2 separate regions of the Homo sapiens genome follow, and region 2 is linked to region 1. Evidence: fine-mapped expression QTL. A gene starts in region 1. The other region holds a variant in brackets. All regions are shown on one strand. Distances are from middle to middle.

The links. PIP is the estimated chance that this variant, and not a neighbour inherited with it, causes the effect. A credible set is the group of variants that fine-mapping cannot tell apart.
Region 2: its variant is the best candidate, but not a certain one, in a credible set for the expression of ARMH1 in prefrontal cortex (GTEx, PIP 0.80).

Annotation. Positions count from the first base shown.
Region 1 is chr1:44,672,139-44,676,523 of GRCh38, forward strand. It overlaps ARMH1 (armadillo like helical domain containing 1), which reads left to right and starts at 2,576. Exons shown (of 12, transcript NM_001145636.2): 1 at 2,576-2,735. TMEM53 (transmembrane protein 53) reads right to left here and starts at 2,343. Exons shown (of 3, transcript NM_024587.4): 1 at 2,193-2,343. The coding sequence starts at 2,253. RefSeq lists an enhancer at 1,787-2,288 and silencers at 2,056-2,195, 2,346-2,395, 2,466-2,515.
Region 2 is chr1:44,522,431-44,526,815 of GRCh38, forward strand. All of the region lies in intron 2 of RNF220 (ring finger protein 220), which reads left to right. Among named protein-coding and RNA genes, the nearest start is that of MIR5584, 21 kb to the right of the region's middle. RefSeq lists enhancers at 358-1,215, 1,216-2,072, 1,722-3,047. The variant A/G (reference allele first, on the strand shown) is at 2,696.

The DNA of each region.
Region 1 (4,385 bases):
GGGTTTGACAACCTCTAGCTCTCCTCTGGAGCATGGACTGTGAGAGGGAAGGGCAATGAATTAAAGCCAGTCAGGAGCAGCAATAAGGAGGAGAAACAACTGAAAGCCGTGGAGGTGTTTCCCTTGGAGGAAATGTGAAGGCACGAAGCTGTCCTCTTGAACAGAGGAAGAGAGATTCCTTGCTCTGTATCGTTCCCACCACAATGCTCTAGCCCTGCAGTTAGCACACCATTTTGAAACCACCTGCTTATAAATTCACTCCCCTCCCCAAAACCTCAGCTCCTTGGGCGTGTGAGTCACTTCTGAGTGGCCAACAACGATCCCACAGCCAGGACACAGCAAATACTGAACTGAGAGCGGAAATTACAGGAAGGCCTATTGTGGCTCAAGAAAGGGAAGTGCTTTCTAACAATCCCAGCTGCCTCCAACAGGCTAGAATGTTTGGGCAGAAGCATCGCCCCAGGGAAGGGTCTGCTAGCAATGGAATGCACTCATGCCAACAGAGGGAGGCAGGACAAAACAGTCTCTGAGATTTCTTCCAATTCTAAGACCCAGCCTCCTGGAGCAGCAAAGGGAGCCATGGGATCCGCCACTGCACTCCGGCCTGGGCGACAGGGGAGACTCCATCTCTTAAAAAAAAAAAAAGAAAGGGGGGCTGAGGGGGAACCACAGGGGAGCAATGCAATGGCAGCACCTGCACTGTGCCAGGGACACACATCCAAACGCTACCTCGTAACCCTCGCAATCCCACGAGGAGGTAGGCACTAGTACTCTTCCCATTTCACAGTGGAGGAATCTCAGGCTCAGGGAGGTTCAATAGCTTGCCAAAGACATATAACTTGTAAGACATGGAGCTGAAATGTGAACCAGGACCACGAGGCTGCCCTCCTGGCCGTGCAGAAGGCAGCTCCAACCCTTTGCAGCCGAAGACTCTCCAAAGGAAATAATATTAACTGACTTCATGGCTTGCTGACGCCAAAACGTGTCCAAAGTATTTTTACATCTATAAACCCAAAAGCGCTAAGCCAGCAGATCCAGTTCTAGGGAAAAACAGCTGGTCTGGGGCCATCTGTTCTGCGGGAGTCTAAGGGCTGCCCTCTCCTAGACTCCAACCAAAGAACATGAGATGCTACGGGAGGGATCTGGGAAGGCTCTCCTTAAGGAGGTAAGTTTTATGGAGAGCAGAGTATAAGATCAAACCTTTGCATTAGAAAGATCACTGTGGTAGCAGTTTAAGAGGCTGGGCTGCAGGCAGTGAGACAGGAGGCGTGAAGGCGATGCTGGACTAATGCAAGTGAGGGACACGCTGGCCTCAGGCTGATCATACTTCAAGGCCCTTCTGCCAGAATTCCCAGAGAGACCAAACTTTCCACTCTCTGGACCCCGATCTACTCACACTGTCATGGATGCGGGCCTGCTGTCAATCCTAATTTTGTGGAGAATCCTACATGTCTTTCTTTAATGTAAGGAGAGAAACAATGCTGATCGTAAATGCCAATTACTGAACTCACTCCATGCCAGGCCCTTTACACAATCTCCAGATGGCCCCAACAGCCCTATGAGGAAGGTTACTATCCTTATCCCGGTTTTGCAGAGGAGGAAACTGAAGTTCAGAGAAGGTAGCTTACCAAAGGTAATCCAGCTCCTAAAGGAAGGAGTCAGGATTTCAGTCGAGTTCTACCCGACGGCAGAGACTGCACTGTTAACCACTGCCGAGAAGAGTGGAGAGGGACGGCTAAGGGTTCTGAGTCCCGGGCTTCTGCGAGGATCGGTGACCCCGCGAGCCTCCCCCTCCACGCCTTCGGGAAAATAATAAGTGATAGGCTAGATGTGGGAAGCCCAATCCCAAACAAAGGAATCAGGAGGGATCCAGCTTTCGGCAGCCTTCAGCTATGAGAAGTGATTAAAGGGCATGGACCTGAGCACCCCGGACAGGAAAGACAGAAAAAGAGGTCCCAAGCGAGCAGCTGACTCGGGCAGAGGCGGGGCTCGCCAGGGAGGAACACTCTGGGGCGGGACTTACGAGGGGCGGGGCTCTCTGAGCCTCTCTAAGTCTAGGACCTGCCAGACCCTATGAGGGGGCGGCCCGAGGGAGGGCGGGGCCGCATGAGGGGCGGGGCTACAGCTGCGCTCGCAACCCACAGGTTCATGAGGTCACCTCCCCGCGCCTGGACCCAACCCTCATTCCATACTCTGGCTCCAGCAGGGCTGATCCGGGATCTCGATGGTGTAGTCCAGCTCTGCCGAGGCCATGGTGAAGGCGCCGGCCCAGAGCACGGGTCTCCAGCCGGAACTCCCGCTTGCGCACCCGTGCCTCACCCGGGCGCCTCCTGGGCGCCGCCCAATCACCACACACCTCCCCCAACACGGCCCAATCCCTGCGCCGCGCTCTGTGACCTCCCGCCTTAGCAACCACCGAGTCTCTTCCAGAGCCTCTCGCCTCACCCCACTAGCTCGGCCCTAGCAACCATGCCCCGCCCCTATTACTGACCCGCAGCCATTGGCTAATTCGCTTGATCTGGATCAGGTATTGGTCAGCCGGGGCGCCGGTCAGGAAGAGTCCCCACCCTCTCATGTAGGTGAGAGGCGGCTGAAGAGTTGCTGTATTCTGGGAATGGGCAGGGTCACTCGTCCGAACAGAGTCCTATCCTACGCGGCGGAAGAGTGTGCCCTTTGACTTGCATCGTCTACCTACCTCTGCCATCCTCTACCAGCCGCAACTGCGAGGGCTGGAGGTATAAAACCGTACAAAACGGCCTAGGGGGCGCGTGCCGACCCAACCTCCACCCAGTGGGGTTGAGGCATATTCTGGATGGATGGATGGATGGATGGATGGATGGGTGGATGGGAAGCAGTCTTCAGTTGATGACTTTAGAGAATGCCCTGTTGATAGGGCCCACCGAGGAGCTGGGAGTGCAACTTTCTTGCATTTATCTATATTTACATACTATGTGCCAGCATATTTACATACTATGTGCCAGAGACTGGGTGGGCTAAATAAGGTTCCTTAGGCCCTAGTGAGAATCAAGCTTTTGGCCCTCCCTCTCCCATGTCTTAACGGGAGAGGGAGAGAAACCATGCATGAAGCAACTCTGATTCTGCGTGTGAGATAAATACTACAGAAGAGTAAGGATTTGAGGAGCTCAGAATCAGAGAAGGGGCATTTATGGCAGTGGGGTTGGCTCTTGAGCTGGGCCTTGAAAGACTTTTAGAGATAGGGAGGGGGAAAGACTCTTTGCATGCCAGGCGCGGTGGCTCAAACTCGTAATCCCAGCACTTTGGAAGGCCAAGACGGGAGAATGGCTTGAAGGAGTTCAAGACCAGCCTGGGCAACATAGTGAGACCTTCATCTCTACAAAATTAAAATTTTAAAAATTAGCCAGGCATGGTAGCGCATGCCTGAAGTCCCAGCTACTTGGAAAGCTGAGGTGGGAGGATCACTTGAGTCAGGAGGTCAAAGCTGCAGTAAGCCATGATTGTGCCACTGCACTCCAGCCTGGGTGACAGAGTGAGACCCTGTCTCAAAAAACAAAACAAAGAGCCCAGTGTGGTGTCTCACCCCTGTAATCCCAGCACTTTGGGAGGCTGAGGCGGGCGTATCACTTCAGGTCAGGAGTTCGAGACCAGCCTGGCCAACATGGCGAAACCCCATCTCTACTAAAAATACAAAAATTAGCCGGGCATGGTGGTGCACACCTGTAATCCCAGCTACTTGGGAGGCTGAGGCAGGAGAATGGCTTGAACCTGGGAGGTAGAGGTGGCAGTGAGCCGAGATTGCTCCACTGCACTCCAGCCTGGGTGACAGAGCGCGACTCTGTCTCAAAAAAAAAGAAACATTAGTGCAGGAACTGGATTGAGGATTGGGAGAAGGAGGGAGACCAGTTAGGAGGTTGTTTCAGTAGTGGGGAAGGATTATGGTGGCACAAAGCATGGAGTGGCAGCTGAAATGGAAAGGGCAGGATGAATTCCTTAGACACTTATAGCTAGAAAAAAATGGACTTGGTTACTAATTGGGTGTGGGGGAAGTAAGGGAAATGAAGGATGACTTCTAGATTCCTGGTTTGGGCAAACAGGAAGGAGAGGAAGCAGGGGTTTTTAGGAGAGGGTCAGTTCTGGGCACGGTGAGCTTGGGGTGCCAATGGAACATCCAAGTGGAGGTATCCAGAAGGCCATTGGATATGCCTAACTGGAGTTCGCCAGATAAGTCTAACTGGAAGTTGCAGTGTGGGAGTCTATGGGGCCTTATAGATGCCAGCCACACCAATAGATTTGTTGAGCTTGCCCAGGGAGTAAGTGTAGAGTCAGAAGAGACCTAGGACAGAGCCCTGAGAAACACCCAAGTTTGAGGGTCTGGCAAAGGAGGACGAACCTGCAAAGGTAATCAA
Region 2 (4,385 bases), 150 kb before region 1:
AGAAGCAGAACTCAGAGCATTTGAGTTACAGAAGACTTCTTGAAGGGGGTAAAAGTCGAACTGGTCACTTAAGGACTGGAGGATTCTATTTTATTGAAGAAAAGAGAGACCTTAATTGAGGTGGGTGGACAATAGTTGAGCACAGCACTGGGCTGGGCTCTATGCATGGACAGAGAGAACCAAGTAGAGACCAATCTGAGCTTCAGGTAGAAACATCCCTCCTGGGGGGGCGGGGGGACCTTCTGTGCTTGATGTCACCTTCCCAAAAGGAATGCAATGCCCGGGGACCATCTTTGACTAGTATACCCATTTTGGAAAGTAGGGAAACTCGATCTTAGTTTATAATTTGCTCACAAACTTAGATAACCTCTGAGGCCCTGCCCTCCTGGAGCTGGTGTGGTACATACATTCCACTAATGGTAGTTAGAGCAAGTAGGACTGTGTGTGCATGCATGCATATGCTTAAGCACTCACAAAGCCAAAACAAAGCGTGCTACCCACACTGGCCTTGGAGCTTGGCAGTCACAACCAACAGCAGCCCATCCAGAGAGCAGCTTTGGGTCTGGAAGGACTAGTAAGGGAGAAGGAAGGCGAGAGATGGGGAAGAACATATGTTCAAAAATAAACACTGCCTCCTGCTAAATGGTCTAGAAAGCATCTGTAAGAGGGGCTCTGGGCTGTGGGGTTTCCGAGGATGGTGAGTGTGGGAATGTTTTGTCTGTAGAGTTGGGGCTGGGGGCTTCCACATCCTGCCCACTGCCACATCTGGGGAAGTCATCTGCACTGGGCTGATGGCTCCCCGAGCACTCCTGCTTTAATGGCTCGTGGTGCCGCAAGAAGTGGCCCTGTAATGGCCATTCCAGGCTGCCCCGGGGAAGGGTCTGGGCAGGCCCCAGGCAGCCTGTTTGCTCTCCTCCCACCCCAGGCCAGCCAGCACCTTTCACCTCCTCTTTGCCTAGGTGAGCTGGCCTGAACCCTAGTTGGGAGCCTCCAGCTGTGGGGAGACAGTGGGACTAGAGGCCTTGGACATTTAGAGTGGGGATAGGACTTGGTCCCGCGCTTCCTGAATGCCATCCCCTTGCTAAGGCACAGGCTCCTGCATCTGTCATTGTTTGCGTTCTTCTCTTGACACAGCTCTGCCAAAACCTCATCTCTTTACAAAATGAGGCTAATGGTTATGGGGTCAGGTCCAAGACCAAGTGGTGCAGAAGGAGCAGGAACACCATGCTTTGAAAGAACCTGCTTCGCATGGTGTTAGGGAGAGGTATGGAAGGAGAAAGCAGAGAAATGTGCTGAGGCAGCTCAGAGGGCTCCCGCCTCTGCTATCCCCCAGGGCCCAAGAGGATCCATTGGTCATTTCTGCCCTCACAATCCAGCATCCAGCGCAGCCCCATCCCCTCGTCCATCCCGAGCCTGAGACATAGCTGCAGGTGCAGACAAACCTGCTCGCCAGTGACCTCTGGCATGGGGTATTTTAATGGCATAGTCCGCTTGCCTTGCTCAGGTCCCTGGGGAATTAGCTGGGGGACCCAAGAGCAGCGGCATTGTGAGTCGAGATACCTGCAAGTTGTAAGGATTGAGCGATGGGTCCTAGCTTCAGCAAGGGGGAGACTCCCCCTGCCACTCTGGTGCCCCAGCAGCAGCCTGGCTAGAGTGGGGGCCCAAATGTGAATGGGGGGATGCTGGAGGGGGGCAAAGGGAGGGGAGGGCTTGCACTGGCTCCTCTCAGCAAGGGCTCGTAAAGCTGCAGGTGTGAGATGTTGTTATTTAGTCTAGAGCCTGGTATGTGACAGCCCGGGCCCTCTCTCCTGCGAACTGCCGCCGCCACCGCCTCTGCTGGCCAGATAATTAGTCCATTACGACTCTCCCACCTCGGGTAGGTGGGGGCAGGGTGAGAGCCCACCCTCAGACTCCTTGTAATTCAACTTCCTGTGTTTTATGGAAGCAGGCTGTTGGGGGCAGAGAGTGAAAGGCCGGTCCCTAGGCTTGGCCAACCCCTTCCTCAACTCCCAGCCCCCACCTCCCTCCTTCCACCCAAACCCGGTTGCTGTGGTGACCAAATGTTATTTCCCAGCTTCGTGTTGGAACTGCTTTGTAAAAGTTTTTTACATCTCTTACCTGCCTCAAACACGAATGCAGGCTGGTCTATCTCTCCCTGCGTCTTGCTCTGCCCGTCTCTTCCTCCGCATCTCTCCTCTGTCTCTCTCTATTTTTATTACACGCTTATCGCCTTTTTCCCTCCTGCTTTTGAAATTGATTTCCTTTCCTTTCTCCCCCTATTCAGGACCTAAACGCTGAATGTTCGATATTTCATTTGAGACCGCTAATCGCATTACTGCCCTTGACGTTTTACAGATATCATATTATGGGCGCAAATTTGGCAAATTATTAGCGCTGTAATGTATAGCTTGTCAGAGGTATTTAAGACGCTAAGAGCCCAAGGCTTATCGGGGTTAGCAGAGAGCTCTCGTTGAGCTTTTGAAATGCAGAGAGCCAGTTATAAAACACACTGTGACTCTCTCTTCAGCTGGTGAAAAAAAGGAAAAGAGAAAAAGAGAAAGAAAAAGAAAAAAAATGTCACCCGTCTATCAGAGGCTTCCAGGGCTGATAACAAGCAAAATTCTTCTCTGTGGGTTTCACTGGAAATGTGAGAAGCTTTTAAAACATTTCTCAAGCTGTCTGGAAAAGAAAAAAA[A/G]TCTTTATTGAAAGGATGTAGCAATCTTTTTTACTGTGGCCTATTTATCTCTGGGGAAAAAGCTGTAACAAGAAGATCCCCTACTGGTCACCAGCCGTGTCAGGGCCTGCCTGGCTTTGGTGCCAGGACTTTGGTGTGGGGGGCTTGCTGAGCGAGAGGGGGGCCACCTTTGGCAAAACGGGGAAAGGCTGCTGGCTGGTGTGCATTCCTGTGGAAGAGGCAGCGTCCTGCACGCCTAGCACAGCGCTCAGGGCTCAGCAGACGCATCTCATCAAATCCTTTTTGAATGAATGGTTGAATGAACCAACCAACAAACACACACAAAAAATAACAGAACCTTGAAACTGCTGCCCCGCTTTGGTCTGCCTAACTGTGCCAGGTGCCTGTTTACCCCCCTACTACTGTAGCAAGTGACTTTTGCTGATACCACTGTCCACATGTGTTCCTTCACCCTCATACAAACATCCCTGCTCTTTTGAGGCCATTCGATCCTCTCTACTTACTTGTCACTGTCATCTGCTGATGACATCTCCCCTCTATTCAGCAGGAACGTTGGCACTCAGTATCTCCCTGCTCACCCCTATTCTGCGTTCCTCCTGTGAATTTCAGCACCCACATGGACTGTCCACATCCTGGGATCCTCTGCTGCAGCATCCTGCACTCCTACAGCAGATTCCATGGAAACACAGCCCCGCCCTCAGTCTGACCATCTCCCACAATTTCTTCGTCTCAAAAATAATGAACTCTGAATCCCATTTTGTAAGCTGCGTCTGCTGTCCTTATGTCCGTTCTCCTTCCTCACTCCCACTGAATCTGTTTTTGACCTCCGTTAGACCTTCAGTCCCTGGACCATTCCTAATTTAACAAGCCCACCATTCCCCTCCTAGCTTCACTTTCTTTCCTGCCCGACCTTGACCCTTTGATCAACATCTTTAAAGAATTTCTTCGTGCCATTTCCTCACCCTTTTGCCTTTCTGTCCCACCTGTTTGCCTACCTCAAATCCCAAATCCATGAAAGCATTTACTTTCTCCTCTATTTCCGGCCTGTGATGCTCCGGGGAGAAAAGCGCATAACCATTTCAACTGGTGTCACCACTAGCAGACCCTGACTAAGTCTCAACAGTCTGCGTACTTGTCCCAGAATGACTTCCCATTTCCCACAGCAGTTGTTGTAAACCCTTCCCTCTCTCAAAATATTTCTCTTCACTGCCTCTGTTTACCTCATTCTCTGTAGATGACTTCATTTCCTGCTTTTCAGAGAGAATAAAGGCCAAACAGCCACAACTTTTCTCCCTCCCTAACCTTGGCCTCACCCTGGAGGCCATCTTCACTGAATTGTCCCCTAACTCAGTACTACTCAGTACTTGTGTCCTGACTCAGTACTACTCAGCACTTTTGTCCTAACTCAGTACTATCCAGTACTTGTGTCCTAACTCAGTACTCATCCTTCCACCTGGGCCCATCACTCCTCCTCCTTCAATCTGGCACCACCATCTCTTCTCTCACATTTTAAATATCCCTCTTCCTACCAATGCCTTTCTCTCTGCCTTCACACACCCTCAAATCTCCCCTTTAAATCTTCTTTTAATCTTAACTTCCAAGCACATTACTCTCCCCTCTTCCTCTTTCCCTTTACTGATAAACTTGTTCAAAAGACATCTCACTCACATTGCCTCCACTTCCCCACCTC